2 linked regions of the Homo sapiens genome follow. The protein of the gene in region 2 interacts with the protein of the main gene of each other region in a pairwise test. Each region holds a gene or a part of one and is shown on either strand. Other genes may lie near its edges.

The links. Proteins that work in one complex are often made in the same cells at the same time.
Region 1: the proteins of SCHIP1 (region 2) and HTR6 interact in a two-hybrid assay, tested with the Homo sapiens proteins (one large-scale study listed by BioGRID).

The regions. Positions count from the first base shown.
Region 1 is NC_000001.11:19,674,875-19,678,170, reverse strand, and holds part of HTR6 (5-hydroxytryptamine receptor 6), read right to left. Parts: intron 1-3,296. UniProt on the Homo sapiens protein: G-protein coupled receptor for 5-hydroxytryptamine (serotonin), a biogenic hormone that functions as a neurotransmitter, a hormone and a mitogen. Also has a high affinity for tricyclic psychotropic drugs.
Region 2 is NC_000003.12:159,885,244-159,888,743, reverse strand, and holds part of SCHIP1 (schwannomin-interacting protein 1), read right to left. Parts: intron 2,538-3,500; coding exon 2,420-2,537; intron 1,536-2,419; exon of another isoform or gene 1,277-1,535; intron 1,037-1,276; coding exon 839-1,036; intron 1-838. Other genes in the region: IQCJ-SCHIP1 readthrough transcript protein, read right to left, coding at 839-1,036, 2,420-2,537.

The sequences.
Region 1 (3,296 bases), on a different chromosome or scaffold from region 2:
GAAACACAAATCAGATGGTTCAGAAGAACAACCATCCCTGCAAAGACAATACGTGACACAGGCCAACACACACATTACAATGAGCCCAGCACCTTCCAAAGCCTTTAGCGCTACAGAAATCAATTGCAATTGACTGGGCACAGTGGCTCACGCCTGTAATCCCAGCACTTTGGGAGGCCGAGGCAGGCAGATCACTTGAGGTCAGGAGTTTGAGACCAGCCTGGCCAACAGGGTGAAACCTTGCCTCTACTAAAAATACAAAAATTAGCCAGGCGTGGTGGCAGGCACCTGTAATCCCAGCTACTCAGGAGACTGAGGCAGGAGAATTGCTTGAACCCAGGAGGTGGAGGTTGCAGTGTGCCAAGCTCACATCACTGCACTCCAAGCCTGGGTGACAGAGCGAGACTCTGTCACACACACAGACACACACAAAATCAATTGCAATTGAACAGTACTTGAAAAAGAGGACCTGTTACTGTCCAGAGCTTGGCAATTGCTTTGTATGTGGATTGTCTTCACATTTGGGAGCAATAGTCTTGCCTGGGCAATTACTCTTGAGCCCCACAAAATAGAAAGGCTTTTTTGAGAATGTGTGCACAGAGCCAATGTTTGCAGCTAAATCTCTTAATAGGCTCCTAAGGATGCTGGTTACCTTGGCATTTTATAGCTCAATTATACTGCGAACTGGCAGGCATCTCCATTCTCAAAAGTGGACAGGAAGAGGAGGAAGGGGTAGGAGGGAGGAAGAGAAAGAAGCTACTTCCCAGCAGCCACTGAAAGGAAGGCATGGGCCCGGGGAGGTTAGAATTTGACTTTGCAAACTGGCCCCCACAGTCCCAAAGGGCTCTCTGAGCTGGATCATTCTTTAGCTCAGCAGTGCTCTTCACTTGTTAAACTTCATGAGCCTTTTGAAAATCTAATGAAATCTCACACACACACACACACACACACAAACCTCTCCCCAGAAAATAAAAGGCTTGTAAATTTTTACACACACACACACAGACAAGAAAACAACGTTTCACACTTCCAGAAGGTTCAGAGATGACCTTGAAGTCTCTAGGTTTCCACCAGAAACCCCTAGGAGTCCGTGAAAGCTGGGATGTGAAGCCCTCCTCTAAACCATGTGTTTCTGTAATCAACGTGGATTTTCATATATTAGATTTACACAAAATTAGGCCCACCTCTATTTACTATTTAATGCCCGTGGGCAGTGGTGTGCACAATTCATCATGAGCTACGCAAAGGGTGTGTTTGCGGTCTGTGAATACATCTGGGCTTTGACAGCCAGGGATTTTCCCGGCACTGGGATTTGTCCAGTTCCTAAATTGCGTGAGAGCCCTGCTTAGTTCTCGAGGCCAGAGGTGGGTTGGATATGGGGAGATGAGGTCAGAAGGAGGCAGGAGCAGAGCCAGATTCCCAGGCAACCTTCCGCAGATGGAAAGGCGGAGGAGGCAAAGCCAAGATGTGTCAACTCCAGGGAGCACCAAAGCCAACACCCCACCCCACTCTGCTGCGCATGCCCTCTCCTCCAGCCCCGGCTCTTTCTAGGCCTCCAGAGTTGGTGTCTTGTCCATGGTGCTGAAACCCCAACTACACGCGGTCTTTTCATAGAAGCTGGAATTCTAATTCTGAAATGGCAAGGAGGTTGCTGGGGCAGGGAGACGAAGCACATCGTAATCCCCACCCCTCAACGTGTTTCTTCACATGAAATCTGGTTGTACAAATATCAAGGTTATACAAATTCACAACAGAGGCCTTGGTTTCTCCCTTCTGTCTTGGTGAGACAGCATTGTACAGAGGCAAAACCTGGGCTTTTAAGACAGGTGATCTGGCTTCAAATCAAAGTGGCCTCTACCACTTACTCGCTCTGTGATCTTGAGAGAGCCTCTGTTTCCACATCTGCAAAATGGGAGAAATGATACTCAGCTTACGGCGTCGCTGTGAAGCTATGGATAATAAATGCATGCACAGAGTCTGACGTTGAGTAGGTGCTAAATACCTGGTAGCCATGTTGCTGTTTCAGTGATATGTGTTGTGAGGTTGGGGTGATTTTGAGCACTGTTGGGGAGCCTGTCCTTCTGCCAGCAGCTCTGGCCTCCCCAAAGCAGCACAGACACCAAGACAAATGCTCTGAGTCACCACGCTGCGGCTCAGATGCTATGACTAGAGGATGCTCTCCTCCGACTCCACCCCATCATACACGAGTCTGCTCCAAAGTCATTCCAAGTTAGCAAGGGAGTAAAAGAGGGTTTTACTCTCCTCTCTCCTCTTCTAGTTTTCTCTCCTCCAGAGTGGACTCTATATGGCTTTTGTGACCACACCATGGTCAGCCTGGAGGAAGAGGCTCCTGCTTCCCCAAAAGAATCTCCTAAGACCTGCCACACCTTCAAATTGCTGCCATCAATGGGAATAGACGGCATGGAGAGGGATGAGACACTGTCTCATCCAGGCATCGCTCTGACCCTTAGTGACCTGAGGAGGGCAGGGGAGAGGAGGTAGCCCTGATCTTATCACAGCTCTAGGGCATGGGGGAAACTGAGGCACTAGGGGGAATATCTCAGGTCAATCATTGGGGGAAGGAGCTCCAGAGAATGGGGTGAAGATGAACTGAGATTCCCTTTCTAGTCTCCCTGGGAACAACTCCAGGTTTTTCTTTCTCCTCTGCTTTCCAGAGAGTTGACTCAAGAACACAGGGAAGAGGAAAGAGAGAAGGAAACTGAGGCTCAGAAAGGGTAGAGGACACTCTACCCTTCCCAAGGTCACACTGTTCCAGTACAAGGCCTCCAACCAAAACCTGAGTGGCCCTGAACAAATCAGCATTATCATCCCCATTTCTCGAGCACTTACTACACATCAGCATTTGATAGTCATTAGGTCATTCAGTCTTTATGAGAGGTAGGCATTGTCATCCCCATTTTGCAGATGAGACAACTGAGGCTCGGAGAGGCAAAATGACTTGCCAGAAGTCACACAGCAGTTAAGAGTTGAGTTAGGGATTCCATCATTTCTGGCCTCAGGAACACCACTCTGCCCACTTCACCAAGCTGCTTCCACCTTTGGAGACGGCATCCATGGGCCCAGTCAGGTGGGGTTACAGAAACCCCACCACTGTCAGCAAGAGGCCCTCATGGAGCAGAAGCCAATGGCTGTCACTAGTCCACACCCCGGCATCTGGCTGATGCTGGCATCACCCTTCTGGATTCTCTCTCCCCCATAAGCACCTCGCAGCCCCTTGGGGCCATGTCCTGTCGTTTGCATCTCCCTTCTGTATCAGTGTCAGAGGGCAGCTTCCT
Region 2 (3,500 bases):
TTAAAAGACCCACTCACCCACCCACTGCAATTCAGTGATTAAAAGCTTTCCCAGTCTGTGTCTTTCCCAATGTGGGGCCCTACATCCACACTACATTACCTAATATGCAACTGGCATCAAAACACAACACTACCAGCATCAAAAGCTTTTTGACTCGTCTTTAATATGGGTTGTGAGTCAATGTTATAGCCACAAATGAATTATCAAGGAACATCAATAATATCAATGACATGGAAAAAATTAGTATCAGCTACTATTTAATAATTTATACCATGCTACAAGCACTGTGCTATGTGCTTTGAATACTTTATCTCACTGAATCCTCACAATCATACTCTGACACAGGCATTATCATCCCCATTTTATAGATGAGAAAACTGAGACTTAAGTAACTTGCTTAGAACTTCATAGCAGGTCAATGGCAGAGCTAGACTTAAACTCCAAAGTCCAGGACTCCTATTCACTATGTGATATTGTCTTTATTGAAATATGAGAATGACAATTATAGCAATAGTAAGTTTGCCAAGACCAATAGGTTCTTAGATTGAGATCGCTTCAAAGGAATTTAAATATTCCCGTGGCAGCTAATATTGTTGCTAAGAAACAGTAGACATCAATCAACAGCAAACTTTACTTTTGTGAAATCTATTGCTTCTGTATTTTTCAGTCCTACAGTAGGAAGGAAAAAGAAACAAACTTAATCATTTCTCAATGACAGGACTTTTTACAAACCGCCTTAGAGAAACACAAGTTTGCATAATTCTGGGAAAGGACTGGGACAGTGTCAACCATTTCTGGCTCCCAAACACTTCCTTGCATTTCAGCCTTTGCTGCTTACAAGATCAGCGACGGGAGACTTTTTCCTGTTCTGTTTCTCCACTTCTACTTGCATTTTGGCCATTGGTTTGGCCATGGCAAGGGCCATTTTGGCTTCAGCTTGCAATTTCTTTTGCCTTGTAAGGAAGTCCATGTCATCCAAGGATTCAGACTCCTCTTCAGTAGTGTCTCTATCAGAATAGGAAGAACTCTGTTTGCTCTGCAAAGGGAAAAAGAGCAGCCTGAGCCTTCCATGCATGCCAGCTAGCATCCACTTAGAGATGGGCTACAACATCCTCTGAGCCTTCTCTCAGAGCAGCTCAGAGTTCCCTCCCTCAATGTGACTTGCTACTTGAGTTGATAAATCTCAAGTAACAGAAAAAGGGTCTAGTTTAAAATAGATTTTAGCATAAACAGAGAGAGCAGTATAGTTAATAATGGGAAATATATTTACAACAACCTTGAAATATGTCTTTGATTCTTGGCCTCAAAACTTTCCTGAAGTGAACAGACATAACAAAATATTGACTCGAAGCCAAGGCCCTACGTAGGTTCTTTGCGTGGACAGGATCTCATGTATCCAGTGATGTTCTGATGTCGCACTGCACTCAACGACAACAGTTTCCTCTTTGTTGGTCTTTGGTAAAAAAGGCTATAGACAGACCTCACAGAGAGGAAAGAATTCCAGCAACAGGCACCCATGATTATTCAGCCAACTTCTGTAATGGGAAGGAAAGACATGAGCTAATATTTCTAAGCCCAATAGGGAAGAACTGGATTTAGCTTATTTTCTCTTTATAATTTTTAGAGCATATCTAATTTCTCTCTCTCTCTCTGATATGGTTTGGCTGTGTACCCACCCAAATCTCATCCTGAATTGTAACTCCCACAATTCCCATGTGTCGTGGCAGGAACCCAGTGGGAGGTAATTGAATTATGGGGGTGGGTCTTTCCTGTACTGTTCTTGTGATAGTGAATGAGTCTCACCAGATATGATGGTTTTAAAAATGTAAGACGTGACTTGCTCCTCCTTGCCTTCCGCCATGATTGCAAGGCCTCATTAGCCATGTGGAACTGTAAGTCCATTAAACCTCTTTCTTTTGTAAATTGCCCAGTCTTGGATATGTCTTTATCGGCAACATGAAAATGAACTAATACACTCTCTCTCGTTAGAGACAGGGTCTCACTATGTTGCCCCGGCTGGAGTGCAGAGGTGTCATCATAGCTCACTGCAGCCTTGAACTCCTGGGCTCAGCTGATCCTCCCGCCTCAGCCTCCTGAGTAGCTGGGACTATAGGCACCATGATCAGCTAATGTTTGTATTTTTTTATAGAGACAGGGTTTTGCCATGTTGCCCAGGCTGGTGATTTCTCTAATGGTTTAATATGAAAATAGTTATTAACTTTAAGAAAGCTTATATATCTCTATTTTATTACAACTTTGACTTTTTAATCATTGTCAAATTTTAGGAGCATGCAATTCCAAGAAACTTTTCTTCTTTAATCTCTGAAATGTTTGTTCCTGATTCACCTTACAACAGAAAAGAAGCTAAATGGCCCGGAAATCACAACACCGAGCTTCAGCTGGTGCTGTTTGGACTCACCATGGGAGACAAGGGGGTGTCCAAGCTGGTTTCAGTCTTACTGTCATCAGCATCACTGTCCTTATCACTGCCACTGTCGTTGACAAAGCATATCTGCAAGTTCATCCCACTCTGCAGTCTGGGCAGAAACAAACAGGACACTAGTTCTACTTAGCTGTTTGTTATTTGGCTTCAGCCAATAGAACTGTCTGATTTTGCTAACAGAAAGTAGTCTTATGTGTTCTTCACATGGAGAAATGAGCAACCAATATTACTCTCCACATATAAATAACTCTTAGTAGAGGATTTTCCAATGTTCTGTGAGTTTTTTCCTCGCCAGTTTCATGGTAAGTGAAAAATAATTTAAGGCCCCATGTTAGAGCACCCAGCACAATACCAAACAGATAGTTGGTGCACAATAAAAATGTGTTGAGTCTTTGAGTTTACAGTCCTGTCAATCAAGATGAATGGGGTCCTCGGGCAAATAAGGCTGCGTGGTGTCATCTAGAGAACCCGTCCCAGGGGGACAATCAAAGACTCTCTCACTGGAGCCAGCATCCCAAGGCCACAGCTCTCTGAAGAAAGACTCCTTTTCTCCCAAATAGACAGAATAGGGTCATCTGAAGGAAATCTTTAAGGCAGTTGCCAAAAGCCAACCAAGGGAGCTCATTTATATCATTAAGGAAGGAAAACACCACAGGTTCACACTTAAAAAAATGTAAGGAAGCCCCAAACCCAGGCAGTAAGGTGCAGCCTTAGAACACAGCAAGGTTCTGCAGACCACCTCCTGCACACAGAACCTCAGGGACAGAGACCTTTGGGAAGCCATTATATGTGTGGTGAATCCTGAAGCTCCAGGGCTGATGTTTTTGGAAGCACAGTCACAAAGGGTAACCTGGCCGTGTAGCTGCCACTCGCAGGCCAGGCTGCACAGCCAACTTTTTGTTCTAACCTTCTTTTGAAGTTGAACACATTTCAATACTGTTTGGTGATAAAGCATTTTTAAAGAAGTAGTTTTCCTAGCATCTCTAGTAGCCCCAGTCTCTGTGTAAGCTTAGGGAAAGAAAAGGCAAAAGGAGGTTCCTACGCAAGAAAAGATCCC